Homo sapiens: one gene and its partners. The protein of the gene in region 2 purifies or fractionates together with the protein of the main gene of each other region. This does not show direct contact. Each region holds a gene or a part of one and is shown on either strand. Other genes may lie near its edges. The genes, in order: CHFR, C5orf24, PKNOX2 and PBX3.

The links.
Region 1: the proteins of C5orf24 (region 2) and CHFR purify together in Homo sapiens (affinity purification with mass spectrometry; 2 studies listed by BioGRID and IntAct, with this or other methods). This does not show direct contact.
Region 3: the proteins of C5orf24 (region 2) and PKNOX2 purify together in Homo sapiens (affinity purification with mass spectrometry; 2 studies listed by BioGRID and IntAct, with this or other methods). This does not show direct contact.
Region 4: the proteins of C5orf24 (region 2) and PBX3 purify together in Homo sapiens (affinity purification with mass spectrometry; 2 studies listed by BioGRID and IntAct, with this or other methods). This does not show direct contact.

What each region holds. Positions count from the first base shown.
Region 1 is NC_000012.12:132,883,761-132,892,078, forward strand, and holds the start of CHFR (E3 ubiquitin-protein ligase CHFR), read right to left. Parts: upstream 3,846-8,318; 5' UTR 3,787-3,845; intron 3,581-3,786; 5' UTR 3,569-3,580; coding exon 3,436-3,568; intron 1-3,435. UniProt on the Homo sapiens protein: E3 ubiquitin-protein ligase that functions in the antephase checkpoint by actively delaying passage into mitosis in response to microtubule poisons.
Region 2 is NC_000005.10:134,855,122-134,860,722, reverse strand, and holds the end of C5orf24 (UPF0461 protein C5orf24), read right to left. Parts: coding exon 5,256-5,601; 3' UTR 3,367-5,255; coding exon of another isoform or gene 3,326-3,366; 3' UTR 988-3,325; downstream 1-987.
Region 3 is NC_000011.10:125,166,741-125,175,073, reverse strand, and holds part of PKNOX2 (homeobox protein PKNOX2), read right to left. Parts: intron 1-8,333.
Region 4 is NC_000009.12:125,741,915-125,751,015, reverse strand, and holds the start of PBX3 (pre-B-cell leukemia transcription factor 3), read right to left. Parts: upstream 3,644-9,101; 5' UTR 3,563-3,643; coding exon 3,363-3,562; intron 2,834-3,362; exon of another isoform or gene 2,588-2,833; intron 2,467-2,587; coding exon 2,393-2,466; intron 1-2,392. UniProt on the Homo sapiens protein: Transcriptional activator that binds the sequence 5'-ATCAATCAA-3'.

The DNA of each region.
Region 1 (8,318 bases), on a different chromosome or scaffold from region 2:
CTTTCCCTTTTCCCCCAAATAATGCCTTATAAATGGCAGGCACATCATTGCTTTAAAATAATCAAGTTCTGTCTGGGCGAGGTGGCTCATGGCTGTAATCCCAACGCTTTGGGAGGCCAAGGCAGGTGGATCATTTGATTTGAGGCCAGGAGTTCAAGACCAGCCTGACCAACATGGTAAAACCTCATCTCTACTAAAAATACCAAAAAACTAGCCAGGTGTGGTGGCACACGCCTGAAATCTCAGCTAGTCTGGAGGCTCAGGCAGGAGAATCACTTTAACCTGGAAGATGCAGGTTGTAGTGAGTGAAGATCGCACCACTGCACTCCAGCCTGGGTGACAGAGTAAGACTCCGTCTCAAAAAATAAATATATCAGGCCGGGCACAGTGGCTCACGCCTGTAATCCCAGCACTTTGGGAAGCCGAGGCGGGTGGATCACCTGAGGTCAGGAGTTCAAGACCAGCCTGACGAACATGGAGAAACCCCGTCTCTACTAAAAATACAAAAAGTAGCTGAGCGTGGTAGCACATACTTGTAATCCCAGCTACTCGGGAGGCTGAGGCAGGAGAATTGCTTGAACCCGGGAGGTTGGAGGTTGAGCCAAGAAGGCACCACTGCACTACAGCCTGGGCAATAAGAGCAAAACTCCGTCTCAAAAAAAAAAATACATATATATATATAAAATAAATAAATAAAATAATCAAGTTCTACAACTGTTAGGAACTGAATGTTTGTAACTGAGTGTCTGTACCCCCCTAAAATTCATATATTTAAGTCCTAATCCCCAATGTGACTGTATTTGGAAATGGGGCCTGTGAGCTGATAAATGTTAAATGAGGTCACTAGGTGGGAATCAGATGTCACAGGGCTGGTGCCCTCTTAAGAGGAGGCAGAGAGAGCAAGCAGAGTCCCCCTCTCTGCCATGTGAGGACACAGCAAGAAAGTGGCCACCTGCAAGCCAAGAGAGCCCTCACCAGGAACCCAATCTGCCAACACCTTGATCTTGGACTTCCCAGCCTCCTGAACCATGAAAATAAATTTCTGGCCAGGCACAGTGGCTCACACCTGTAATCCTAGCACTTTGAGAGGCCGAGGCAGACAGATTGCTGGAGCTCAGGAGTTCGAGACCAGCCTGGGCAACACAGTGAAACCCCATCTCTACTAAAATAGAAAAAAATAAGCCAGGTGTGGTGGTACGTGCCTGTAGTCCCAGCTACTCGGGAGGCTGAGGCAGGAGAATCGCTTGAACCTGGAAGAGGGAAGTTGCAGTGAGCCGAGATCATGCCACTGCACTCCAGCCTGGGTGACAGAGCAGGACTCTATCTCAAAAATTAAAAAAATAAAATAAAATAAAAAATAAATTTCTGGCCGGGCGCGATAGCTCACGCCTGTAATCCCAGCACTTTGGGAGGCTGAGGCAGGCAGATCACGAGGTCAGGAGATTGAGACCATCCTGGCTAACATGGTGAAACCCCGTCTCTACTAAAAATACAAAATACCACTGCCAGGCGTGGTGGTGGGCGCCTGTAGTCCCAGCTACTCGGGAGGCTGAGGCAGAAGAATGGCAAGAACCCGGGAGGTGGAGCTTGCAGTGGGCCGAGATCGCGCCACTGCACTCCAGCCTGGGTGATAGAGTGAGACTCTGTCTCAAAAAATATATAAATAAATAAATAAATAAATAAATAAATAAATAAATTTCTGTTGCTTAAGCCACCCAGAATGTAGTATTTTGCTATGGTAGTATGAACAAACTAATACAATAATCTTAAAGTTTTTGCTGGCAACATTATTTATAAATTCACTAAAATCGTTCCTATTAAAAGATAAACTCAACGACATATTTTCTCTCCTTGTCTTAACATGTAATGTCCTACCATGTAATAACATGTATAACATGTTACAATAACAATGGCTAATGCTAAGTGCTAACGCTAAAGTTCCTTCTAAGCAGTCCGTGTATGATCTCATTAACTCCTCAGAGCAAATCTATGAAGTAGGTACATAGGCGCAGAAAGATGTCGTTAGCCCAGAGTAATGTGTTGACAGATTGGAAACCCACATAATTTGTCTCTAGGGCCTCTGCTCTTCACCAAACCTCCTAGTCTATCAAGTAAAGACAAAGGGAAAAATCTTCAAATACTTCCTCTTGTCTTAAAGGGATAATTTTGATATGTTATGATGATATCTAAATACTTTCAAAGTTGTAAAATAAACTTTGACTTGATACTGGAATGTAAGACTACCAAAACACCCCAAAAAACAAAACCAGGTCAGACACAGTGGTTCACACCTGTAATCCCAGCACTTTCGGAGGCCGAAGCAGGTGAATCACTTTAGTTCAGTTGTTCAAGACCAGCCTGGGCAATATGGCGAAAGCTCATCTCTACTAAAAATACAAAAATTAGCCAGGCATGGTGGCGCACGCCTGTAGTCCCAGCTACTCCGAGGCTGAGGCGGGAGAATCACTTGAACCGGGAGGCAGAGGGTGCAGTGAGCTGAGATCACACCACTGCACCCCAGTCTGGGCCACAGAGCAAGACTCTTATCTCAAAAAAACAAACAAAAAAACAAAAAAAACCAGGTGCAAGCACATTATAAGGGGTGAAATTAACCAAAAAAAAAAAAAAAATTGCTTCCAAACAGCAAATATTTCCCATCCTCGCTCCTTTTTAGAGTATAATGTCGGAGCTAATTCATTAATTTTCAGACAAACTAAACATTTTTGTTGACAGGACCAGCGCATTTCTCTCCCCATACAAAGGCTTCAGAGGAAATCAAACAACCAGATGGTCACTTGGGAGACTGGAGGCAGTGAATGTGGAGGCTGAGGGAACTTTCTCTCACCCGTTGTATGACTTTGTTCAAGTTTTTAGCTTTCCAGGTTTATTAAATAAATAAATATTCTAGGGGCTGGGACTTGAGATCTTTTTTAATATAAGCACTACAGCTATAAATTTCCCTCTGAGTACTGCCTTGGCTGCATCCTAAATACCTTTTGGTGTATTCTATTTTTGTTTCATTTGTCTCAAAACAAGGTCCCCGTTGTAAAGACTTATTTGACCCACCGGTTGCTTTAAGAGTGTGGTGTTTCATGTCCACATATCTGTGAATTTTCCACTTTTCCTTCTATTATTTTTAATTTCGTTCCATTACAGTCAGAAAAGATACTCTGTACGGCAACGAACGTGACAATATTGCATTCTGGAGAGTATATGAACACAACTAACTTATACAGTTGTAACGAAGGCTAAATGATGTGCGTGAATCATGCGCAAGAATCGGTGGGCAGAACACCGAATAAATACCAGTTCTTACATGACATTTCACTCCACGGAAAAATCTGGAGCGCACACTGCACCGCCGCCCGTGTGGCCTGCCCGCAACCCGGTGGCTCTGCCCGGCCCCGGCCCCCGGCCCCGGCCTCAGCCCCGCACCTCGTCTCCGCCCGATGGTCCACTCCCGCTTCCTCAGGAGGACGTGCGGCTCGCCCTCCTCCGCGCCCAGACGCAGGAGCCGTCCCCAGGGCTGCGGCGGCGGCGACTGCTTGCCTTCCTCGGGCCGCTCCATCGGGATTCACATCTGCGGAGACCCCGGAAACGCCCATGGAGACTCCCGACCCCAGAGGCCGAGACTCGGCGCCCGCCCCACCCCGCGGGCCCCGGCCCGGCCGCCCGCGCCCACGCAGCCCCGCAGCCCGGCCTGGACGCCGGCGGGCGCCCCCTCCCACGGCCGCAACCAGGTCCCCCTTCGCCGCCCGCCGCAGCCCCCTCGCCAGCCGCGCTTACCCCCGCCCCGCGCCGAACCCGGAACCGGCTGCGCCGCCGCCGCTGTCAAGAGACATTGCGGCTCCCTCAGCTGATCCGCGGGGCGGGGCCAGAGGCCTCTGCGCCCCGCGATTGGCTGGCGGCGGCGCTCACCAAGAGCGGCAGCTAAAGCGGAGCCGGGAGTGGCCCGCGAGAGTAGGCGCGTGGAGGGCGCTCGGCCATCTTTGATCCTGACCAGGCGACTTCGTCGCCTGCGGATCACGGAAGTGGCTGCGGTCGGCGCCATGTTATGTTGGGGCAGAAGGGACGGGGAACTTCCGGATTGGAAGCCCCAAGGATTCTGAGAGCCCCGCTAATCTGGGGATGACTCCTAGGAGTAGAAGACGGTCCATCTTAGTTGTCACGAGGTAGTGCACGTGGGGACCCTTTCGGGTACAGTTGCACACAGTGGATCACACAGATCCGAAGTCTGAGGCACAGGGCGCGGTCCGCGAGTGGGAGCGGCTGCTTGTGGGCAGGGTGGACGCGGGGCCACGTCTTGGCCGGCGTTTTGCGGGGTCTTCCTGTTCTGAACGCGCGTAACTTTTGCCTCAGTATCTCACTTCTTGGAATCCGGCGGCGTTCACGTGTGTGCTCCAGAGAAGGGCGCCAGAGGGTATTCCCTGAAAGTGAAAGGTCGGCGAAAGAGGAGTAAAGACGGCGAGACGCGTCCACGCAGGGGGAGTCTGTGCGGTTTGGAGGAACGCGCCAATGTCTGCACTCATGAGGAGCCCCCAAGGGCGGTTTTAAGAGGGTGAAGCAGGACCGGGCGCAGTGACTTACGCCTGTAATCTAAGTGCTTTGGAAGGCCTAGGCAGGAGGATCTCGAGCCCAGGAGTTCGAGATTAGCCTGAGACCTCATCGCTACCAAAATAAATAAAGTAGGCATCCATTTGTGTAAAACAAACCATATATACACACATATATACATATATAAACATTTGTATATATAGGTATAGGCATAGTTATCTATACCTTGTAAACCAAAAATAAAATTGTAAGCCTCCCCAACCAACTGAATGAACTGAGTCTCTCAACGCCAAAGTTAATCTGAAAAACCAGTTCAGTCCCTGATGGGAAGCAGGGTTTGGATATGTCCCATTATACTGTCCTCCCTTTGGAATTCAGGTATAACTGACCAGCGTCGACGTTAAAACAGACAACTTAAGGCTGACCAAACGGTCTGTAGCATTAAGATACATCACATGACAAATAGCAGGCCCTGGAAGAAAACGAAGTATTTTACCCTGACATGTATTTATTTAACATAGTTTTACGTAGCCCTGCAAAACTGTCTCCTGGGGGAAATCTACTTTGTAGAGAATCTCCTTCCTTTTCCACATCTTTTCCTGATCCAGGAGAGAATGTAAGACTCTGGCACCTTTTTAACTCTGATAAGAAAAGTTTACCATCTATTCTCTCTGAAGCCTGCTGCCTGGAGCGGCATCTGCATTAGAATGGCCAGAGTGGTGGTGCTCAAGCCTGTAATCCTAGCACTTTGGGAGGCCGAGGTGGGTGGATCGCTTGAGCCCAGGAATTCAGACCATCCTGGGCAACATGGGGAGACCCCGTCTTAGCTGGACATGATGACAGCACATGCCTATAGTCCCAGCTATTCAGGAGGCTGAGGTGGGCAGATTCCTTGAGCCCGGGAGGACAAGGCTGCGGTAAACCACAGTCTGTGCCACTGCAATCCAGCCTGGGCAACAGAGACCCTGTCAAAAAAAAAATAACAAAATAGAAACTTTGTCTCCCTTAGCTTAACCCAGACAATCCTTTCTATTGATTCCAGGTCTTTAGATAATAACAACTCTTTCAACCAAGTGCCAATCAGAAAATCTTTGAATCCATCTATGAACTTTCTCCCTAAAAGGTGTAAAACCGGCTGGGCGCAGTGGCTCACGTCTGTAATCCCAGCAGTTTGGGAGGCTGAGGCAGGTGGATCATGTCAGGCCTCTGAACCTAAGCTAAGCCATCGCATCCCCTGTGACCTGCATGTATATATATGCCTAGATGGCCTGAAGTAACTGAAGAATCACAAAAGAAGTGAAAATGGCCTGTTCCTGCCTTAGCTGATGACATTCCACTACAAAAGAAGTGAAAATGGCCGGTCCTTGCCTTAACTGATGACATTACCTTGTGAAATTCCTTCTCCTGGCTCATCCTGGCTCAAAAAGCTCCCTCATTGAGCACCTTGTGACCCCCACCCCTGCCCACCAGAGAACAACCCCCCTTTGACTGTAATTTTCGTTTACCTACTTAAATCTTATAAAACGGCCCCACTACCCCTATCTGCCCTTTGCTGACTCTCTTTTCGGACTCAGCCCGCCTACACCCAGGTGAGTAAAAAACTTTATTGCTCACACAAAGCCTGTTTGATCGTCTCTTCACATGGACGCGAGTGAAATTTGGTGCCGTGACTCGGATCGGGAGACCTCCCTTGGGAGATCAATCCCCTGTCCTACTCTTTGCTCCGTGAGAAAGATCCACCTACGACCTCAGGTCCTCAGACCAACCAGCCCAAGGAACATCTCACCAATTTTAAATCGGGTAATGGCCTCTTTTCACTCTCTTCTCCCACCTCTCTCACTATCCTTCAACCTCTTTCTCCTTTCAATCTTGGTGCCACACTTTAATCTCTCCCTACTCTTAATTTCAGTTCCTTTCCTTTTCTGGTAGAGACAAAGGAGACGCGTTTTATCCATGAACCCAAAATTCCGGCGCCGGTCATGGACTCGGGAAGACAGTCTTCCCTTGGTGTTTAATCGCGCAGGGACGCCTGCCTGATTATTCACCCACGTTTCAGAGGTGTCTGACCATGCAGGGACGCCTGCCTTGGTCCTTCACCCTTAGTGGCAAGTAATGCTTTTTTGGGGGGCAAGAACCCCCCAACCCCTTCTCTCCGTGTCTCTACCCCTTCTTCACTTTCCTGGGTGGCAAGCACCCCCCACCCCCTTCTCTCCATGTCTCTACCCTCTCTTTTCTCTGGGCTTGCCTCCTTCACTATGGGCAAACTTCCACCCTCCATTCCTCCCTCTTCTCCATTAGCCTGTGTTCTCAAAAACTTAAAACCTCTTCAACTCACACCTGACCTAAAACCTAAACGCCTTGTTTTCTTCTGCAACACCGCTTGGCCCCAATACAAACTTGACAATGGCTCTAAATAGCCAGAAAACGGCACTTTCAACTTCTCCATTCTACAAGACCTAAATAATTTTTGTCAAAAAATAGGCAAATGATCTGAGGTGCTTTACATCCAGGCATTTTTCACACTTCGTTCCCTCCCTAGTCTCTGTTCCCAATGCGATTCCTCCCAAATCCTCCTTCTCTCCCTCCTGCCTGTTCCCTCAGTCCCAACCCCAAGCGTCGCTGAGTCTTTCCAGTCTTCCTTTTCTACAGACCCATCTGACCTCTCCCCTCCTCCCCAGGCTGCTCGTCGCCAGGCCAAGCTAAGTCCCAATTCTTCCTCAGCCTCCGCTCCTCCACCCTATAATCTTTCTGTCACCTCCCCTCCTCACACCCGGTCCGGCTTACAGTTTAGTTCCTTGACTAGCTCTTCCCCACCTGCCCAACAATTTCCTCTTAGAGAGGTGGCTGGAGCTGAAGGCATAGTCAGGGTACATGTGCCTTTTTCTCTATCAGACCTCTCTCAGATCAGTCAACATTTAGGCTCTTTCTCATCAGACCCCACTAAACATATACAGGAATTCCGATATCTAACTTTGTCCTACAAGTTAACCTGGAGTGACCTAAATGTCATCCTGACTTCTACCCTCTCCCCAGATGAACGGGAAAGAGTTTTTTCTCTAGCCCAATCTCACGCTGATAACCACCGGCTTCACGAGCCATACCTCCAGGAAGGCATCAGAGCAGTTCCCCGAGAGGATCCCCAATGGAACTATCAGGCAGATTCCCCAGGTACAGCTAGGCAAGATTACATGATTTCCTGCCTAGTTGAAGGGCTTAAAAAGGCAGCTTACAAACCTGTTAATTATGACAAGCTTAAAGAAACTACCCAAGGTAAAGACGAAAACCAAGCCCAGTTCATGGCCTGCTTAGCAGCAACACTCAGACACTTTACCGCCCTAGACCCAGAAGGGCCAGAAGGCCGCCTTATTCTTAATATGCATTTTATCATCCAATCCACTCCTGACATTAGGAAAAAACTTCAAAAATTAGAATCTGGCCCTCAAACCCCACAATAGGAATGAATCAACCTTGCCTTCAAGGTGTACAATAATAGAGAGGAGGCAGCCAGACGGCAACGCATTTCTGAGTTACAATTACTTGCCTCTGCTGTAAGACAAAACCCAGCCACACCTCCAGCACACAAGAAATTCAAAATGCCTAAGCCGCACACACCTAAGCCACAGCAGTCAAGCATTCTTACAAGACTTCCTCCATCAGGATCTTGCTTCAAGTGCCAGAAATCTGGCCACTGAGCCAAGGAATGCCCATAGCCTGGGATTCCTCCCAAGCCGTGTCCCATCTGTGCAGGGACCCACTGGAAATCA
Region 2 (5,601 bases):
TCTTTGGCCTGGGTGACAGAGACTGTATCTCAAAATAAATTTAAAAATGAGCCATGTTTAATATCTAATTTTTAAAAAAAACCAAAAGGATCAATAATGTTTAAATTTAAATATTAGCCTTTTAGTAGAACTATTTGTCTGATGCATCTTTTTTTATTTCTAGCTGTATTCTGATTTATCTTTTTTTAAGTTTGTTTGTCGTGCAGGCTGGAGTGCGGTGGCATGATCTCGGCTTGCTGCAACCTCTGCTTCCCGGGTTCAACCAATTCTGTGCCTTAGCCTCCCAAGTAGCTGGGATTACAGGCAACTGCCACCACGCTCAGCTAATTTTTGTATTTTTAGTAGAGATGGGGTTTCACCATCTTGGCCAGGCTGGTCTCAAACTCCTGACCTCGTGATCCACCCGCCTTGGCCTCCCAAAGTGCTGCGATTACAAGGGTGAGCCACCACGCCTGGCCAGAGACCAGGAGTTTGAGACCAGCCTGGGCAACATAGGGTACCCCATCTCTACAAAAATTAAAAAATTAAGGCGTGGTGGCGGGCGCCTGTAATCCAGGCTACTCAGGAGGCTGAGGCAGGAGAATGGCGTGAACCTGGGAGGCGGAGTTTGCAGTGAGCGGAGATCGCGCCACTGCACTCCAGCCTAGGAGACAGAGTGAGACTCTGTCTCCAAAAAAAATAAAAATAAAAATAAAAAAATAAAAAATTAGCTGGGCATGGTGGCAGGTACCTGTAGTCCCAACTACTCGGGAGGCTGAGGTGGGAAGGTAGGAGGACTGCTTGAGCCGAGAAGGTTAAGGCTGCTGTGAGCTATGATCACGCCACCGAACTCCAGCCTGGGTGACAGAGTGAGACCCTGTCTTAAAAAAGAAAAAAAAAAAAGCAAAATTCTAAGAAAAACACAAGATCTACAGTCATGAAAAAGGTTTACCATTTACCACTTAAGTACTTGAAAAGTACCACACTAAAAAACATAGTAAACATAGCTGGTTTTAAAGTAATGACTTTATTAATAAATATACATCCATATGATGATGTAGATACAAATCATGAACACTACTCCATTCCCATACACATAATTGCACACGAGTAGCTCAAGTTCATGGACATAAAAACATACACAGTATCTATTCAGACTTTTTACAGCAGAGGACAGCGTGCTTATTATCAGTTAATTGGTAATTATTTTCTCCAAAATTACCTGTGGAAAAAAGAAATTCTGAAAACTTAAAAGAATCAAAGTGATCTGATTACTTTAAATCACACACTTGATTTACTATATAGCATTAAATTTTCCAAAAATTAAATACATTACATGTGAGAGCACAGATTTATATATTTGGAGGAGGGGGGAAAAAAGGAAAGATTCAGATACATCCTAGAGTTTAACAGCATACAGTTAAGCTGTAATAAAAACAAAAATAGAATAGCATCAAAATTTTTTATGTCCAAGGAAAAAAATCTTTTGAAAAACTGTTTTGAATTCTTTATATTCCTATAAAGGGACCATAAAATTTTACTGCATATAGAGACAATGACCGACAGAGTAGCAGTTATCAATAACCCCTGAATTGTTCTTTTAAAGCTTCTTAGAATATAAAGGAGAAATTTACTTTTTTTTTTCTTTAGCTCACACACTATGGTTATTTTTACACTGAATGGGTCAACTTTAACCTAATAAATGGACCCACATATATATTTTTTTCTCCTCAACTCAAAGAAACTCTATTCTTAGTTCATGAAAATAGACATGTAAATTCACACAAACATCAGTTTGGAATCAATATTACTTTGACAGATGTTTCTTTAAAAAGTAAATAAAAAATATAAAGAATTTTTAGTCTAATTAAAACATTGATTTTTTAAAATGTCCCTAAATATTAAAAATTAAACCAGATACTACTCATTTTCTTCCAATACATTGTGCCAATATATTTTTTAATATCCAATGCAAAACTCTAAAGATAGTATCAAAATCACCCTAAATACTACTTATGCAAGGTTATATCTGTCAAAAAATGAAAATTTCATCTGTTATTAGCTCATTTGCTAATATAATAAATAAGGCATGTTAAAGTACTTTTTAAAGAAAAAAGTAATGCAGACTTACTTGAATTGCAGATCATTTTCTGACCAACAGTTTAAATATAGAATAATGAAACCTATTTTGTGAAGAACAGAATTACACTGTATAAAATTAGCAATTTACCTTTCAAGAAACAATCATACAGTGGGGGAGAAAAGGCCAGTTTTCCCCAACTGATTATATTAAAGTATAGGCAACTGTTTAACATGCTATTTCAGTGTTTATCATAACAAGAGACAGTGTTAACAAAATATGCACAATGTAGTCTTTAGTTTATATAGCAGTAAAAATACTTTAAATTTTAAGACTTCATTCATGTTATCACTTAGATGTCTTTCTCTTCAGCATGGCACCGGTAAACTGTTCACAGGGAGAAAAGTAAGTGGAATCAGGAGATGCTCACCAGTGCATAGATATAATACTCCAGGTAACCGCTCAGATGAACAGTAAATTCGGCTTTCTAAATGATGTTATCCATTTACAACTGTAGCCATTTGCCCCTCCCATTTTTTTTTCCTGGGACATAGCTGCTGATAATAAACACTGTTATGAACATGCCTCCTTTAGTTGATCTCACCATTTCATAAACATGTATACAAAATTCATTATACAATAATACACCTGTTTTATCTTCTGACACACAGCACAGCACCAGTAAGTAGATGTGCTGGAGGGTAGAGGAAGAGGAATGAATGTACGAAAGGCAGGGGAGAAAGGGAAGGGTATGTATAACAAAATAAGGAAGGAAAATAAACTGAAAGGGAAATAAATGTCAAATGGACTTACTATAAAACACAATAATCAAATCTTTGACAATGGTGTGCATTATTCTATGGTAGAACATTAAACAAATGTCTTTAGAAACTGGCTTGAAAAAGATTTCTAAGCAGCCAACTGCTGAACATCATCTTGAGAAACAGCTAAATGACAGATACATGTACAGAGTAGGTAACGAACATATGAATAAAGAGGCAAGCATTTGTGTGTGTCAGAAGTTATACTGTTCTGAGTAAATTATTAAAAATCTTGTATTTTAAGCTTTTGCAAGAAAAAGCTCTTGTAGCAATTTAGCTGCCAGAATGTTATAACTGATTATGTAACCATCCAACATCGTTCTCTATGGTTTGTGCAAAGCTAATATTGTTGAGGTCACTGTCTTAGACGCCAGTGCACATAGTCCCCACATACAATGCAACACCTCTTACTGTAAAGAGCAGCATAAAGTCCAGCTCAATTGTGTCAGGCATCACTGGAACACCTGAAGGCTTGCTGCTTTTTTCCTGATAAAAAAGGTATGAAACATGACATCCATTTGCAATCAGAGTTTGCATTAATAGCAAGCCCAAAAAACACAACATGTGCTCTTTTAAAATTTTAATTATTTTAAAAGTTTTTGGGTCCTGCAATTCTACATTTTAATCTCAAAGGCATTTAAAATCCCAAATACAAACATTGTAACTTTAAAGTTAAGTGGAATTTTTTCAAGTCTGAAGTTTATAATATTTTATTTAGAACAAACTCAATAAATAAAATGTGTAACAAGAAGTATTACTTTCAGAAAGGAAAGAAGAAAGATTTCCCTCTGTCCCTACTATACATATCTACCTAATACTTTTTTTCCTTTCTATCTTGCTTCTAAAGCAAACATCATTGGGGGAAAAAAAATCTTTTGGATGAGATGGTCTCACTGGACCCACAATAAGATTTTTAATTAAACTAACCAACATATTTTTTACATGTTTCATGCATAGATGGATTCCTATATGCTTCTTAATATTTGGGTTCTGATGGTCGGGAAACTGCATTCTGTTTATACCAGTTTTACAGTCTACCATTCAATTTGTGTCCTTTGGTAGATATCAACCTGAAAACACAGTAAGTGCTAATGCAATGGGACAATTTCTGAGAAAAACTAAAAACGTTCCAAATAAATGAGCAACATCAATAAATGGTTTTATTTATTTATTTATTTATTTATTTATTTATTTATTTATTTGAGACGGAGTCTTACTCTGTCACCCAGGCTGGAGTGCAGTGGCACAATCTTGGCTCACTGCAACCTCCGCCTCCTGGATTTAAGCAATTCTCCTGCCTCAGCCTCCCCAGTAGCTTGGATTACAGGCGCCCGCCACCACGCCTGGCTAATTTTTATATTTTTAGTAGAGATGGGGTTTCACCATGTTGGCCAGGCTAGTCTTGAACTGCTGACCTCAAGTGATCCGCCTGCCTCGGCCTCCCAAAGTGCTGGGTGTGAGCCACCACACCCAGCCAATAAATGTTTTTAAACATAATACTTTAAAACTTTCTATATGAAAGGCAAAATATAGTGACTATAGCTACATGCAAACCTAGAGAATGCTTCTTTTTCTATTATATGAAATATGCTATCCTCAGAATGCACTATATTTCACCAAAAATGTAATGTGCAGTTTTTATAAAATAGTTTAAATTTTCTGTAAATATGAATTGTTTGTAGTGTTTGGTATATATGCTCTTAGGCAATTAAAAAATACACAACCTATCACTGCTCAAAGGCAAACACTGAAGAATTATTTCAGGTATAATGGTTAAATCAATTAATGCCATGTAGATCAATAAATTACAAGCTGCTTAAACCTAAAACATTAAAAATAAGTTTTTTAACATTTGAAGTGGATGTAAATGCCAAAGCATACAAATATGTGTCCCATCTTGTGAAAATAAATGTTACAAAAACTCACACAGCCATTACCTCAAGTAATCCTGATTCATTAGTTTGCTTTTTTGCTCCATCAGTTAAAAATACGTTAGTGTCTTTATTATACTGTAGGCTTACTTCACAAACTAATAGGTATAATGGTTTCAGTTGTTTATCACATAAAGCATCTATTTAGAACAGCCCCAAAGTAGTAATGAAACATGAGACATGACCATAACTCTAAAGGAAAAGGAAAAATGATTTAGTTAGGTGTTACACTTGAACCTATGTACAAATACAATGCCGCTGCTCATGCCCTGAGTGCATCTGTCAGCATATGGCAGTTTTTGAGCAAAAGCAGGAAAAAAACCAAACAGGAAAACAAATTTGGAAAGCCCAGGCCATAAAATTATGTATATCAAAATAAAACCAAGAAGCTTTGGGATTATTCACAATCTTCCTTCTAAACCTGGCCCTCTTTTCCTGCCTCATTCACTCATTGGGTGGTTTGACTTCACTGCTAGTTTCCTCTACCCCATGAACTGCTCTGCCATGCATCATAGGGTAAGGAAAAGCAGCAGTGCCACAGCCATAACCAAGATCGGCAAGACGGGATAGAGCTTTAATGCTACCTGGAGGTCTGCCTGGGCTGACTTTGTATCCCGCAGCTTTAGTTGTCCCCAAAGGTCTGCCTGGACTTGTCTTAAATCCAGCTGCTTTGGTGGTTCCCAGGGGTCTGCCTGTGCTGGTCCGGTATCCTGCTGATTTGGTGGTTCCCGAAGGCCGGCCACGCTTACCAGATCGGTTGAGATTCTTCTTTTTCTTTAGTTCATCTTTT
Region 3 (8,333 bases), on a different chromosome or scaffold from region 2:
TCATGAATGGAGGTGACTTCTCAAGGGGTGCTATGCCAGTGCCGGAGACTAAGTCAGGTTCCTTGGAAACAGGCTTCAGGGAAGGCTGGAGGAATCCTTTCGAGCTCCTTGGCTTTCCTCCAGAATCTGTCTCACAAGTCAAGAGGGCCCCAGGGGACCGCTGCCCTACTATGAAACCAGTTGTCTCCTCCCAGAGCCGGTGGGTGGGGGGCAGAGTGGGAGAGGGGCCGGGAGAGGAGCTCCTTCCACCACCGCTATTTGGGCCACAGGGGAGCAGCGGTCTTGAGTTCCCACTCTGCCAGGCTCTCCTGCCTGATTTCTGTCCCCCTGACCCTCCTGGAAGCTGGGGGACTCTGCAGGGTCCCTCTCAACAAGCACTCTCCCGGCCCCTGCAGACAAATAAATGAGGCCAGCTACCTCTGCAATATATCTTCCCACCCACTCACCTGCCTACAGGTAGACAGCCTTCCCACTGCTGGGCTAGGTGTTCTCTGGTGTCCTATCACCTTCTACAAACTCATGGTGCCTGATGGACCTCGCATGTACAGCCCAGACAGTCGTAGGAGAATAGACTTGAAAGGGGCTTGAAGAGAGCCAAGGATAACCTGCTCATTGTATAAAATGAGGATTCTGAAATCCAGAGAAGTTAAGAGATGAGTCAAGGTCATATAGCTTGTTCTCAATTTCACATGCGTTTTGTTTGGTCTCCTCATCAAAAATATGTAGCTCCTAGAGGATGAGGCCACTGAGTGTTCCCCACAGCATGCTAATGGGCACTAATTAAATAGTGGGTTCAGGCCACACCTGTTGACAGGTGGATTCTTAGGGAGGAAATGAGAATGAGAACAAGCACCTGTCGCCCCTGGGCCCGGGGCATACACTTGACTCTCTGGGCGTCTGTCTCCCTGCCCTGGACCTGGAGATAGAACTGACAATCTCCACAGAGGAAGGTCTCCTGGGAGGAAGGCAGGACAGCTCCTCAGAAGGAGGGGTCACATCACATTTAGACCTAGCACAGGACTTGGTACAGAGGAGCATCCATTCCTTAACAATGCACTGTGGACTGAGGACCGTGAGGGGAAGCTCTGGGGTAGGGCTCACTTGCCACTACTCCAGCACAGACCCATTGTGCTACGCTGGAACCCAGAGAGCCTGTGCCCTCCCCTTACCTAATAGGAATTAGACAGATGCTACCACTAACGGGCTAAACTCCCCTTGGTGTTTGTCGGCTTGACATCTGTCTGGATTGTGAGCTGATGACCACGGGCACGAGCCCCCGAGGGAATTCTTTCCACCCAGGGGTCCAGCTTACACCTGGGCTGGCAGACCAAGGCCACACTGCAGCCTCGCTGCCCCCACTCATAGCCATGAGATATCCCCTGCTCCTAAATCTACCTCTGCCTCTTAGTGCGGGCCCTCCCAGCCCCACCTGAGACTGAAGACTTTGTGGAAGTAAAAAACAGATCTTCTAGACTTTGGTTTTCACAACAGTAGCTCTTCCCAGCATTTGCCAAAGATTCGAGTAATGGAGGAGATGAGTTTAGCTGGTTCTTTTATGAAAGATCTTGGGAGAGGACTAGGTAGAGCTCAGGAATGGCTTGTGTTGTCTCCAGAAGGCTAAAGGAAGAACCATCATCATAGAAGATAAGCCTGGGCTACCCTAAATAATGTGCTCCATTGCTACACACAGACACACCTGCACCCACTTCCTGGACCTGCCACTTTAGCCACTCTCTGAGCCCCAGTTTCTCTTACCTATAAAATGATACAATGCCCATTTTACCTGCTTCACAAGGCTAAGAGGATCACACAAGGGCATGTGAGAATGAGCTTTATTAGGACAGAAGACTAATATTTATTCAACATGAGCTTGCCATGTGCCAACCACTTACAGATGTTTTCTTCCAGAGTTTTCACAGCAGTCTTAAATATGCTTGGTAGTATTATTATCCTCACCTATAAAGCCAAGAAAACGGAGGCTCAGAGGGGTTAAGTGATGTGCACACTGCTTAGCTGTAGTAGAACCAGGGTCAGAACCCAGAATCTGACTCCAAAGCCTGTGTTCCTTCCCCTAGCCCCACGCTGTCTCAACAAGAAAAGTAAATGCTGCTTTTTATGAAGAAGCCAGTGAGTTTTCAGACTGAAATTGCTGCCTCATGGAGCCATCCCCTATCGCTAGGAACATCCATTTGTCCCAGGCAGGCCATCAGAAGGGTCAGAACCAACCCCTAGGCCCCCACTGTCCTTAAGACTCTATACCACAGGGGCCAAGCCCCTGCAGTCTGTTGAATGTCATCATGATTCTTTGCTCGGATTTGTGGCGGTGGCGGTGGTTTTAATGATTGCCTAGCCACAAAGCCACGAAGCAATCCAATTGGGAGGAAATATGGAATCATGGAACTTTGAGTAGAAGGGGACCTCTGAGAGCAAGTTCAAGCTCCTCATTGGATAAGTGAGGACACTGACATCCAGAGAAGGTAAGTCCCTTGTTGAAGGTCACACAGTCAGTCAGTGGCTGAGTCCACAGTGGAATCCACCATGCTCAGACTACCAGTCCCCCCTTTCTCTCCACCATCCCGATCACCCTGATATCAATCAGCTTCATGGTTCCTGAGATGGAAGAGGGCTGGATGTGGGCCTATAGTCTCTGCTCTCTCTGCTTAGGGAAAAAGGGGATCTTAGGTAAGAAAGCCATGTTGCAACCAGGAGTGAAGTGATTTGTTTGCCTCATGCACCAACTCATTGGTCTAAGTTCTACCCATTGAGAAGCCAACGTGGAAAGGTCTGCTCGGAAATCCCTCAGTGTGTAAGGGAAACTGGACCCAAACAACAAGGCCTTACCTGGTGCTCCTGGGGCAGGGACAGCCCACTTCTGGCCACCTGGGATAGGTAGAGGGGGCTAAGCTCCTCCTTCTAGTCCAGGCTGCTCCCTTGCAGTCCCCAGGACAGCGCAGAGCACCATGACCTAGGAGGCTCATGTTTCATGCCCCCACTGGCCAGCCGCTCAGCCAGTCCTCCTCTAACACTCTGCAGAGGCTCCCTTCCTCCCAGAAGTCTGCCCTGTGACTCCACTCTGTCCTGGTCACTCCACATCCTGCCCCACTGTTGTCTCCTGTGGTTAACACCTGGTTGGTGGCTTTTTCCACGTCACCTCTCTGTCCATCATCTCTCAGGTCTGTGTATTGTATGTGCCCTCTCTACTGTTAACCCCAGACACCCCTCATCCCCAAAGTGTCCTCAGGGTCTGTGTACCTGTTTTCTACTGCAGCCTCTGCCAGGGCTGTGCACAGCAGGCAGCACCAGGCCACAGCATTGACTGGCTATTTGTGCAACGCTGGTTGAAGACGCCAGTGACCTGGAAAAGGGCCCAAGCCAGGTTCTGGGGAAGCAAAAGGAAAGGGAAAGGGGTAATCCTCCAACTGGATCATCAGCTCCAACATAACATGACAGAGGAGAGTCAACCATGACTGAGCCTCTCCTCTGTGCCAGACACCGTGCTAGGGACTTAACAGATGCCCCTCAACAGTCCTGTGAGCTATGTGCTTTTACTTCCCAATTTACAAATGGGGTAACTGGATCGAAGATGTTAAGCAACTTGTCTAGATCCATATGACAGGTAAAGAGCAGGGCTAGGCTCTAAATGAAGTTTTGCCTGATGCTAAATAAAGCCCATACTCAACACCGCCCCCACCACAAGCAAGCTCCTTGAGGACAGGCTTCATGGCAATGTCTTGGCTTTGTTTTTGCTGCTGTCTCCTCAATGCCTAGGACTGTGCCGGGGACACAGAAGATGCTCTATAAATATTTGCTGAATGGAAGAACAAAGGGAATGGGTGAATGCCATGCTGCCCCTCCCCAGCAAGGCAGGACACCTGCCCATGATGCCCGATTACTGGGTTCTATTTCCAAGAATCCTCAACAACTATTTGTTCCCTCTCTACTAGATTTGGGATGGCGATGTGAGTAGAGATGTAAATTGAACACAAAAGACTACGTCCTAATGAGGTGGAGGATTTACAAGCCTCAGTGCCCTGTGACCTGCTGCTTCTGTGGCCGCTTTCTGGCCCATCTGGATCTGGCTCCTCCTCCACCCCAGCCTCCCCCCTCCCCCACTGGGCACCCCCACTGCCTTGACTGAGCCGTACTCAAATTGGCCACGTTCCTACTAAGCAGAAAACTAACAGTTACCCCACCCACCCCGGCCCTATCCGAACTCTCCAGAGTCTGCTCTGGGCCCCAGGGCCAGCTGCTTTTCTCCACATTCCAGCCAAAAATAATACAAGAACGAAGCTGTTTGGTGGAGACTTAATCTAATCTTCATTGCTTCAGTTTTAAAATATCCTGCCTGGTTTAGGGTTTCTTATTACACACAGGGATGTGTTTTTAGTGAGATAGGTCTTAGCAGAAACGTCCTTCTTGTAATTAGAAACCCAGGCAGGCCGGGCCTGCAGTGAGGCATCCAAGCCAAACAGCAGATCCCCTTGAAGACAACGCATTTGCAGCAAGCTCTTCTCAAGCTCTGCTTGACCGCGTGAGATGAACTGAGCTGTCCCGGGCTTGCTTCTCCCTCTCTCCTGGGGGTTCTGGACGGGAGGAAAACCTGGAGTTCAGGTAGAAAGACTGTGCCCTCCAACTGTTGCTCTCTCAACCCCCAGCCCTGTCTCCCACCCCCAATCAAAATGGAGACTAAGATGTTGCCTGTGATTGGCTGAGAAGGAAATGAGGAGGAAAAATTACCCCAAGGAATCCCCAAAGACTAGGGAGTATTAAAGACAAGCATTCCACCAGAGCCGCGTCTCCAGGATCAGAGCTAGCTTTTACAAATCAGACACCGGAACAGAAGGAGTCTACGAGCGCACACACAGTTTTGTGTAAGTGCCGGGTGTAACTTCTTGGGCTTTCTGGCCCAGAATCTGCTTTGATCTGCCAGCAGAGACTGCTAAGAGAGGTTCAGGCCGTGGCTAGCTGCAGACCAGCACCCAACCCCCTCAGCCGACCAGATGTCACACACACACCAGTCAGGGCTCAGGCCTTGCCTTCCCAGTGGAATAAAGAGAAGGGGCTGCATTTCTGATAAGTCAGATTCTGCATTCGTCTGATACAGGACAGCTATTCCAGGTAACACCATTTGGAAGAAGCGGGCTGGATCCCCCAACTCAGCCAAAATTGCCCCTCTTGGTAAAGTGTAGATGGTTTTTGGAGTCACAGCAGGCCTTTCAAATTCTAGGATGTAATGCAAGGCAGGAATTCAGCCCCTTTACTATAGCCTAAGAACTCCTGAGAGTTGTGGGGAAGGCCCTGGAGCCAGGCGAGGAAAGAAAACACACCGAAGAATGTGACTTTGCTGCTGAGAAGCCTCTATCTCCCATTTTTTTTACTCAGAGCGCAGCCTGTGCTTGATCCAAGCCCATCATCTCACCCTAGTGAGAACTGTGTGTGATACATTCCACTTTACAGATGAAGAAACCAAGGCCCAGAAGCTAGATGACCCACTGGAGTCATGCAGCCCTGGCAATAACAGAGTCAAAAGAGACCAGGCCACTAAATTTCAGCCTAAACACTAGCTCAGCATGCTGACCTGCCAACCTTGATTATCTGCCCACCACTTCCCTCCCTCCTTCCTCCCTTTCCCACCAGGTATTAGATTTAATTAAATTAGCAGATCCCCATCGCAACAATCCTGGCCATGCTGCCTGGATAGAACCCAGCCCGTGGAGCTCCTCCCTCTAAATTCTGCTTCTCAGTATAATTCAGTCTTCAATAAGTCACGGATCTCACGTGAAGTGTTTTATACAAAGCATGGTGTGTTGGCTAGACTCAGGCTAACGGTGGTTCATGATGATTTCATTTTCCATTAGAACTTCCTCAGTTTTTCCTCTGCAGCATCGTTTTCACCCTCTCCATGCTCGGATCTGCGTTTTGTTTGATCCAGACACTTGGCTTCACATGCCGTCACCTCCAGCAATTGCATCACACGTTTATATATATCTTACAGCATCGCAGTCCTTGTGCCACACAGCGTAGGAAAAAGGAAAACTCATAACAGCCTTTCTCACCCTCCTCGAACTAATTTAGAAAATGTGCTCCAGATTAAATAAATCGGGAACAAAAGCCTGAGATTAGAGATAGAATTTCAGAAAGTAGGGAGGGGGAAGCTAAATAAATAGCAAGGAAATCTTGCAACATGTTGGAAGCCTATAAATTTTATTGGTTGTTTCTTTAATAAAAACAAATTCAATTGCTAACAACGCAGTATTATTAAGCCTCTAACATTTAAACATCTAATTTTCCCCTGCTCTGCTGCTGTTTACGTTGCACGTTGGATTCACGGAAGGTAAAGAAGTCAGGTCAATTGGTTTGGTTTGATTCCTAAACCAAGCTAATAGAGACCCCTTTAAAATCCAGCCGTTTTGCTTTCTAGGCATGCCTTGGTCTCTAATGAGTTACAGCCCAGGTTGAAGATGGACATGGCAGAAAGAAATTTAACACACACTCTGGTGCACCCATAAACTTCAAGGCCAAGGGAGAGGAGGTATGTTTCCAGTTAAGCTAGAACTCCATGAATTCAGGATTCTCCACTCACAAGACAGTAATTCTACTTATTTCATCACTAACTTACTTCAAATGTGTTTATACAATTTATTGCTACTGAACTTCCAGGCAACTGGTGTAGAGTTAATGAAACCCAGCTTGGAGAAGCTTTGAGCTTTGAACAACTAACCACAGTTTAAATGGTTATGACATGCGGTCAAAGCCACAGCCTGAGCCCACTGCAGTTTCTGTGTTAGGACCTAGTCAAAAACCTTGTCATCTCACCTTTTGTGCCAAACAGATTGAAAAAGCAAAAAGCACTGAAAAACAGCCTGCCTTGTTCCTTCTCAAGGTTCCCAGGCATTTAAACACATTTATCTTACTAAACGCGAGGCAAAGCCCCTCCCCCAGTCCCAAGTAAATATTTTAGTTGCAGTTTGAATTGGCAGCTGGGCTGAAATCCTGAAATCCAGTTTGGGTTTAACTGAACAGGGGTCAGGCCTACCTAAAGCAATGCTGGGAGAGGCTGCTGGGGAGGCACCAAGCAACATTTAAAGGCAGACTCAGTGAAAGCCCAAAGGCAACACGAGAATGAACAGATGAAACCGGACTGGAAAAGAAGCAAACTCGTCTTTCAGAATCACTTGGACATTAACTTTTATTAATTCTCATTGTCACATGGCACCCTCCCCCAAGCTCTGCCATGTGGGATCCAGCAAGCTCCCTCTTTTTAAACAGGCCCATTTTGGAAGAGTAAAGGGGAGGTACTGGATTTGCCACTGCCACACAATAAAAGCCCCTTTTGAAAGCAGCACTTTCATTAACTTAAAGCAATCTATAGACTTAAAAGCAGAGAGCAGTAAACTCCCAGAGAGGATCATAAAACAGCCAGTCTCAAGTTGGGTATACTTCAGTGCAATTCGCACGAGGCATTTTACTGTGAGCGGTGGTCGGGCCCATCTCCCTCCGGTAACCCCCTGCCCCTTATTCTGAGCAGCCTCTCTTTCTCTTGGCTTTCAAGCCTTTCCCGCTCACAAAGGGGAGGCGGTGACCAGGGAGTCTCCGTGGGGTCACGGCTCCCTCCCCCCTCGGGCTCTCAGCGGGAGAGAGCTCTCACGAATTCCAAGCCTACAAAACAACAGCCTTGGAGCTCCGCGGCGGCAGTCGCCGCGCCCCGGGCCGCCGAGGCCACTCGTGGGTCGTGGGTCGTGCGTCTTCCGTGTCCTGTAAGGGCTGTCTGGCTCTCCCTGCCAGGGGTGCAGGGGGCTGGGATGGTGGGTTTAATATTAAGAGGAGGAAATCTCAAATCTTCCTCCCCTCAATGCCCTCCTCCCCCCCGCTCCCACCCCCCACACACACTCTTTCTCTAGATGCCCAGAGAATAACCTACCTCCCTGGTCGGGACCCCTTCCCACCCCACACCCCACAGCTAGGCCCAAGCTATGGGGATGCAGCCCGAGTGGGAGATTATGAGACCAGAAACGGGACCCTCCCTCCCCGCTTCCACCAAGGTCCTGGGGCCTCCGAAGGCCAGAACGGCAGAGAGAGCAGGAGGGCAAGGGCAGGGGCTTTGGGTAATACACCGTGTTATGTTTGAACACCATCATTCTCAGATTTGGGGCGGGGAGGATCGTCTAAACTGCCTAAAATGCGAAGCTTTTGGCTGCCACCGGTTATAGAGCATTTGAAACCCGAAAAGCTAATATCCTGAAGTCTCCGGACAGGAGAGATGACAGTAGGGCACTCCAAGCTTCCTCCTCCCCCGGGCGCACCAAAGGCCGGGTTTGTGGGCTTCTCAGTCC
Region 4 (9,101 bases), on a different chromosome or scaffold from region 2:
GGGGGCTTGGAATTTGCAGCCCCGCTTTCTTTGCTTTGGTAACACTAATGTCTACACAGCTGTTTTATTTCGAATTGAGGATTCTGAGTCCCTGTCTCATTCTAAGACTAGTTTTGGAGAGTGAGGTGAAGCTATGGGTAGTAGGGGAGAATGGAAAGAAGAGAAAGAGCTTCACCCCCATCAATCACTCAGTACTTAAATCCCATCCCTCTCGAGCTTAGAGAGGCTAGCAGGAAGATGCCTCTACCCAGACAGCCGCCTTTACTCTTTGTCGGCTGTTGGCTTTTTACAAAAGAGATAACGTGCAAATGTGGATCCACTGGCCAAAGCACAAAAAGAGAATCTAATTTACAAGTTATCACTGAAAGCCCCAGAAACAATTTTAAAACACAAAAATTTCTTTTGTCAGCTGCCTCTTGGTTTTTAAATAGCAATAGCCCTACCAAAGCTCTCTCTGCCAGTAATCCCAGACTTTGAAAAGATTTGTTTCTTTTTCGTAACTCACCTTTGACATGTGGTTGACTATACTTTCCTTTCAGAATGGTGTAACTAAGTCCTGTGCAAATAAGCAACTAAAGGACTTATGCTTCCTAATTGAATTCTGCCTGCTGCTAAATGTCTCAACATGAAAAGCAGTTTGCTGGGTTTAGTTCTCAAGCTAGCTAGGCCAAAACTTTAAAAAGGCAAAAATAAATAAATAAATACAAATAATGAGAAGGGGATGAGAAGCGATAAGTATCCATCCCCTCTCCCTAGTAATATAAGGCTGTATAAAGTCGAATCAATCTTAATATTCACAACATAGTCAATACCCCAGTGCTTGGCTGTCAGCAGAAACTGAAGTGGAGCCCTGATAGCAGGAAAACCCTTGGACACTAAGCATCAGAATTTACTGAGAATTGCATACTTTTAAGCTTCTAAACTAAGAATCTTCAAGACTGAATGCTAGATGTCTTATTTTACAGTCAGATAAAAATTATCTACTGCTTTAAATCAAAACGCTTTCTAAAGGTAGCTAAAAATCAACACAAAATAAAAGTTAGTAATTCAAGAAAGGATCACTGAGCATTAAGAAACCAGCCATAATATGTGAATGAAAACCAGGAAAAGTACTCTTTGGCCTCCCTTATTATTTGCTGCTTATTATGGTTTAGCATATATATTTAATAGACAGCAATAACTCATCATCTTTTCTTGATTACTTTTAGGATCAGAATAGTATTGCAAAGCGAAAAACCTGTTTCAAAGAAGGCTGACTCGCCTATCAACCTAACAATTATTTGCACTGTGCTATTTGTACACTCAATTTAAACACAATCACATGTAACCTTCTAAATAGCCTCCCTTGGATAGTGCTATATCCTGGACTTCAACTTTTTCTCCTTTGCCTCAACTTTCAAAATGGCAACTTTAAAATACCATACATCCAACACACACCAAAAAAAAAAAAAAAAAGAAAGAAAAGAACAGGAAAAAAATAAACAGTAGAGCTTGTTTAATGTACTTGTTTGCCACATACAGGGAAGATAATGCCAAATACAAACTAAAACATCCAAATCTCTGCTTCAGTTTGAGCAGTTACCTCACGTCAAGACTGAAAGACCTTCAATTAATAAAGTCTGACAAGAAAGTTAAACTGAAACGAATTGCCAAAAATTTGCCAAATATGTACCTGTAGTTTTCATTCCAGCACTTCTGCAAAACCTATCTTCTTATATATTCCCTGACTTGGACACTTCAAAATTGTTTAACCTGCATCTGTAGACCTTTTTATACTTTATATATTAAGCACAGTTACAAGTGTAATGACTTCAGAATACAAAATAATACAAGTATTAACAGATGTAATACATCGTATGTGTCTACACATCATTACCCTTCCTCGATTCTCTAAAGTAGCCTTCCCACCTAAAACACTAATTCAAGCATGCTACTGGGGTCTGTTCAATTGCATCTATTCTTCTATCCGTGCAGCTGAAGCTTAAGACTGTCTAAGTAAAACAAAGTTCGGGCGATGCTTCTCCCGGGGACTCGGTCCTGGCATCCAGTCTCCCGTTGCTCCTTTTAAAAACTGACACACAAACAAGGCGAAAGGAGAGGGAAGAGGGCGGCTGGCGCTCCGGGCCCCCTCCCCGCCTGCAGCCAGGGGCGGCCGCCGAGGGACGGCGATCCAGCCCGGTCCGCACCTACACTTCATTTTACACCAGGAGCAGAACTGAGAAATTGACTCCAGATTTATTGCAGTTTTTTCTCAAGATCAGGACGTGGGAAGGAGAGAATGATCAAAGATGGCGGTGCCCAAAAGCAGCAGCTCTCAACTGGAGAGTCGAAGGAGTAGCTCCGACCCCCACCTCGGGGGTCTCCAGGCCCACTGCGGGGCGCAGCGTCTTACCTGTTTTCTCTTTGATCTCACACAGGACGCTGAAGAGCGCTGGTTTCATTCTGTGACAGTTCAGGGCATGTTTCCTAAAAAACAAATAACGAAACACAAAGGTATTAGCATCACCTATGGAATAATATGGCGCCTTCCTTTAAGTTAGACCCAAGATTTAATTCCAGCCCCCCATTCTGGAAGGCCCTTTTGAACCGTGGGAAGTCAACAAAAACTCCAGTTGACTAGTTCCCGACAGCCAGCAAGCCCCGGCGGCGAAAGCTGCAGCCGGAACAAGGCGGACCCATCTGCCCGGCAGGCAGCAGCCTCGGCCACTGCAGACGCGACGCGAACCCGCGCGGGGAGCCTCGCCCCGGGGGCAGGCGAAGGCGACCCGGGGGAGGGGACGGGTGCGGAGGGGCTCCCGCGTCCGCTCCTGTGCAGAGGAGGCCGGCCGACTGCGGCCAGCGGGAGGGTGACAGCTCGGCAAAGTTTGCAAGGCGGCCCTCCCTCTCCGAGAACTTGGCCGTCCGCACCCGGACCCGCCAGGGAACCGCCCATCGCCCCGCGCCGGGCCCGGGTGGCCGCCCGCATCGCGAGGTCGTCCCGCGGCCGCGGGAGCCGGCGCCGGGACTCCCCGCCGGAGGAGAAAGTTACACTTCCCGGCGGCGCGGCCCGCACGGGGTCGGGGCGGGAGGTTTAAATCCCTGGGAGGGGGCCGGGCTGCGAGGGGCAGGACGGGGGAAAGGACGCCACGGAATCCGCGCCGCACCGAGTCCGTCCCGAGCCCCCCAGAGCAACTTTGCCGACTCCCGCCCGCTTCGGGGGGCGCGGGCAAGTCCCCCCGAGGCCGGGGCGGGCGGCCGGCTTTCGGAGAAAGTTCCCCGCCGGGGGCTGCGGCCCTAGCCCCGGGCGCCACCCCGGGCCTCGACTCGGCCGCGGGCCCGGCTCCCGCACACACACAAAAGATGCTTAATGAGACGACACCAACTTTGCTTGCGCCTCGTCCAAGCTCTGGTCGGTGATGGTCATGATCTGGTGGAGGATGTCGCCGATGTCCTGCTTCCTGCCGTCGCCGTCCGCCCCTTCGTGGCCGTGCGGGGGAGGCGGCAGGGCCATGCCCCCCTGCACCGAGTGGCCAGCCAGGTTCACCCCGGCCAGAGTCTGCAGCATCCTGGATTGATCGTCCATCCCGCCGCGCGCGGGCGGGAGCGGGCGGCGGCTGAGGCGAAGGCTGAGGCGGCGGCGGCGGCGGCGGCGACGAGGGAGGAGAAGAAAGAGGGGGAGGGGGAGGGGGAGGCGGCCGCGCGCTCCCCGCCCGCGCGGGGAGGGGGCGGCCCGGCCGGCAGGGCCCGCGGCTGAGGCGATGAGGACGGGCGCCCGGCTCCGGCTTCCGCCGCCGCCGAGGCTGAGGAGAAGCGGCGGGCGGAAGCGCCGGGCTCCGCGGCGGTGGCGGAGGCGGAGGCGGCGGCGCCCGCTGCCCTCACGCGGCCGCCGCGCCGCCTCCTCGCCGCCGCGCGCCCCGCCGGGCGGCCCCGCGCAACTTGCTCCTCAGCGCCCGCCGAGTTGCCGGGACGCCCGCCGCCCCCCGCGCCAGCCTGCGCACTGCCCTCCTCGGCCGCCGCCGCCGCCTCGGCCAGGCGGGATCCGAGCCCCGGCGGCCCCGGGGGAGGCAGCGGCGGCGGCGGCGGGCGGCGGCGGAGGAGGAGGCCTGCGGGCGGGCCGCGGGGAGCGAGGGGGGGCGGAGGAGGAAAGTTTGGGAGCGGGCGGGCAGAGGCGGCGGGGGCGCTGAGCCCGGAGGAGGGCCCCGGCGGGCCGCGCGCCGGGCGGACAGCCGATGGATAGGGCGGGAGAAGTCGCCGCCGCCGCCGCCGGAGCCGCGCACCCAGCCAGCAGCCGCCGCGGACCGGGCTGGAAGGCCGCTGGGCCGAGGGATTGACAGGCTGCCAGTGCCACTCACTCACTGCGGCCCCGCGCCGGGGGGAGGGACGGGGGCTGGCAAGGGCGGGGGAGCGCTCCTCAGACCCCGCCCCCGGGGCGGTGCGCGCGCTCATTGGGCTCTGCGCCTCCCGCCGCCGCCGCCGGCACCGCCCCCGGGGCCCGGCCCGTTCCCTCTGGCCTCTGATACTCCGCGCTCCGGAGTGTGCCGCCGGATCCTCGCTCCAACCTCGTCGCGTCCTAGCCCCCCGGGATAGACCGGGCCGGCCCACAAACGGTGTGCCCGCACCCCGACTCCTGCTCCATGCTTTTGGCAGTCATGGGAGCGGGGGGTTGTGTATGGGACAGTGGGCAACTCGCTGCAAAGCCAACCGTGTGCTCCCCCGCCGCGCCCGTGAGCTTCACGCCTCGGACAGCTCCTGGTGCACTTTCCCGCTCTTCCTGTCAGGAGGTGGTGCCCTCTGGGTACCAGGCCGCTCGTCCCGGGCCAATCGCAAAGCGCTTAGAGCCGAATGGGGCGGGACAGAGGCAAGAAAGGGTCGTCCCAATTGGAGCGTTCGAAAGGTTCTGGGCAGAGGCGGGGAAGCGGCGAGTGGGGGCCTCGCCCCGCCTGCGGTCGCCATGGTAACCGAGAGGGCGCAGCTCAGCGTTGGCGCCAGCACCGGGGTCTTGTGCTGTCCCTCAATGGGTGACCAGTTAAGGTGGGAACCTGTGGTCTCACATACTTGAAGTCTGAGCTGAGTGGACCTGACTGCCATAGACTTTCCATTGAAAGGGGAAATGTGTCAGAGAGAAGCGAGTCTGGGAGGAGGGAAAGTGCCTTCAGTCCAGGACTAATTTCAAGGTTTACAACACTTTACACACTCTGCAACTCCTGATAATCCAGGGACTACTCCTTTGGCAGCGTTTGCTATTCGATGCCTCCAGATGTACTGAAGCTGCAAAAACGAGCTCTTCATTACAAAGATACGTTTGTTTAGGAAGAGACTGGATTTCACTTGTCAACTTACCCCATCACCACGAGTCATTTAATGTTGGTAACGCCAGCCACGATTTTTCGTATCTATAACACCCCTTCTTCCATTGAATTCTACCTACAAATAACTGAAGGCTCACATTATTTTGGAATATGGACCTCCGCCTCTTGTGGAGACTTGAGATTGCTCTTAAGCTGATTTCCCAAACAGGGGCTGCAATGTGTGTTCCCGATTTTAGATTCATTGAGCTCACCCTAGATGAGTCCTTTGGTTCGGTGGTTCGGAAAAGTCTCTTTGTTCCTTCTCCAAACTCAGTAAGCTGTCTTACCTGAAACCAAAAATAGGGGTATGAGGATATGAAAAATGGCTCTTACTCTGCAGGGTTTAATGTAGGACAAGCAGTTCTTTAAATGCCAGATGGATTCTTGGAATGAAGCAGGCTACTCGGTTCCAGGTTCTTTCCTTCATATGTTGTGTGTACTTTTAAATACTCCCCACTGCAAAGCTAATAGCTAAGCTTACAGTTAGGCAAGCTAAAATCCTTACAAACTGCACAGCTGCTGAGGAGGGAGTTCCAAAAAATCCACTCTGCTTACTTACCTCCAAAGAAGAACCCCCTTCATGTTCATTAATATTCTCTGCTCTTCTATACCCCATTGATATGTCAAGTTTCCAATTCTTCTTTGAAGCCCCCATTATGGGTTACTTATAATCGTCATTGATTGGGTTTTTTCTTTATTCTTAATTTGTTTTTTAAAGCTGTCACCAAATTCTTAAGCATTTTTGCCAAAAGGCGCAGGAGCAAGCGGTCAACCTTTCATAATTCTCCAACGCTGAGGATGCAAAACCACAGAATTCTAACTGAAAGATGCCTTAAATTCTAAGATTCCTTCCAGCTGTAAAATTCAATAATCCTGTGACTCACTATTAGGACTCCTCTCTGCCCTCCTTCTAGACTCATAATCTTGACTAATCAGTCATGAGGATGAGGCTAATTAGCAATGGGGATTTATGGTTATTTCTAGCCCACTCCGAACAATGAGTTATGTAAGCAAAGCAACATATATAAAAATGTAAATAGGCCGGTGGCTCATGCCTGTAATCTCAGAACTTTGGGAGGCCGAGGCAGGTGGATCACAAGGTCAGGAGTTGAGACCAGCCTGGCCAACATGGTGAAACCCCATCTCTACTAAAAATACAAAAAATTAGCTGGGCTTGGTGGCAGGCGCCTGTAATCCCAGCTACTCAGGAGGCTGAGGCAGGAGAATCACTTGTACCCAGGAGGTGGAGGTTGCGGTGAACTGAGATTGTGCCACTCCCCTCCAGCCTGGGCGACAGAGTGAGACTTCTTTTCAAAAAAAAAAAAAAAAAGTAAATAAAGAAACACTTAAGCAAATAAAGGCAATTGGGAACTATGGGCTGTGTAAACACACTGGAACATAAAAACATAAATTAGAATTAAGAAAACAGTTAGGCAAATGCCAGCAATTAGGAATAAAACAACTTGTTAAATGTCTAACACCCACAGTTATTTTATGGTACACTCCTCTACACCCATGGTCATTCAGTGATGTGGAAACTTGATACCATAATTCTGCCTTAAGTGATTGAATTAGACTGACCTTCTGCTTGGGAGGCTTCTCTTTTTGTTGTTATCAGTATGAGTTGCAGTAGAAGCCTGAGGACCCTAGCAAGGATTCCTTCACAGGCTCATTGACAACTGCCGTTGATTTAAAGCATAACTTTTTTAGACTGGTTTCCAAGCCTCAATATAACTGTCAACTAATTGCAGATGTTCCAGGATCTCTTGGTGCTCGTGCCAGTGTCTCATGTAGAATGTTGCGTGATCTCTGCTCAAGAATCTGAGTCACAAGGTTGATGCCTTCACAGATGACAGAACAGAAGTTCCCTGAGTACCCGAGTCTGTCTTTGCTGTTTCTAAGGTAGTGATTATTAAAATGTCAAGGGAAATGAAATTGACTTTTGGTGAGCAGACATTCATGTAAAGTTAACAGTGACAAAGTGGTGAAAACCAAGCAGATGTTCCTTCATGGCCATCCCTTTCCATGAGTTTATATTAACATCACCATTGCCTCTGTCATCAATAGGGTGACTATCACAGCAGATGCCATTATTGAGCACTTTCTTTGGGGGTACACTATCCTCTGTGTTCCCTTGCTTCATCTTATTACAGTCTCACAACAGCCTGCTTGGGATTGTTATTAAATAAGAAATAGAATGAGAGAGAGTAAGAAATTTCCACAAGACCACAAAGCCAGTAAGTACTAGAGCTTGAATTCAAATATTGATCTATGTGGCTGCAAAGACTACCGTATAAAACACTGTGCAAAAAAGTAATTTAGCCAGGCTGGTGACATGCAACTGTAGTTCCAGCTACTTTAGAGGCAGAAACAGGAGAATCACTTGAGTGCAGTAGTTTGAGGCTGCAGTATGCTATGATCACACTTGTGAATAGCCACTGCACTCTAGCTTGAGCAAAGTAGTGCTACCATTTCTCCTAAAATTTTTTTAAAAGTTATTTAAGATTATGAAGTAAAAATCACAAGACCTTAACAGATAAACTGAAAAATTAATGAAAATAAGTAACTAGGTGCTTAATAAAGAGAGAATAAACAGCTATATTAGAGGAATCCAGGTCTCAAGGCAGGGGAGGAGGGAAATTAAGGACAGTCAGACCATTCTTCAAAGCCACATTGGGTCCCACCTCTCCGAAGCTTTTCTGTGATGCCTGTCTTCTCTGATCTTTGTCTCCTCTAAACTCCCTCAGAAGATTGCAGTGAGATCGCCTCATTACACTCCAGCCTGGGCAACAGAGTGAGACTCTGTCTCATAAATAAATAAATAAATAAATAAATAAATAAATAAACTCCCTCAGTATATGTTGCCTGTAATACATAACCTACTACCATACTAGATAGTCTTGCACTGTTTGTTCTCCATCCACCTCTGTTAGTTTCCTCATCTAGGTCATAAAAATGTCAAGGGCAAGGTGTCGTAAGATGTGACTATAATATGACAGATTTGATTTTTTTTTAAATCATAGACATCTAAGAAAAGGTAACACTCTCCAACTTGTCACTTTGGGGAAACTGACTAAATGCTTCTTTTCAAAATGTATCATTGCTCCATTGCTTTAGGAATGACTATCTATTTGTTTATTTGTTTGTTCATTGATTTGTTTCTCTAGAGAGTGGGACTTGCTCTGTCACCCAGGCTGGAGTACAGTGGCGCGATCATAGCTCACTGTAACTTTGAATTCCTGGGCAATCCTCCTGCCTCAGGGCTCCTGAGTAGCTGAGACTGCAGGTGCACACCACTACACCCAGCTAATTTTTTGTATTTTTTTTGTATGGATGAGGTCTCGCTATGGTGCTCAGGCTGCGTTCAAACTCCTGGCCTCAAGGGATCATCCCACCTCAGCATCTCGAAGTACTGGGATTACAGGCATGAGCCACTGCACCCAGACAGGAATGACTCTTTAGAATTGGTCTTTACAGTTGATAGCACATGTGACATATGACCAACGTTTATCTTCTAAGGATGGATTTGATTGAGTTACCAAAGATTTAGTGGGATAACAGTCCATCCTTCTAAAGTGATGCCTTTAAAAGAGAATATTTATCAGAATGTATAATTTCTAGAAAAATTTGGTAGAATGCTCCCTCTCTTATGTCCCTTCATAGCACCCAGTACGGTGCAGTTTCATACAGAATAGACAGTTGGGGCCGACATGACCAGTTGTTGGCCTGCCATCCATTGGCTTACTTCCTTCTACACCAATAGAAGCCTGATTT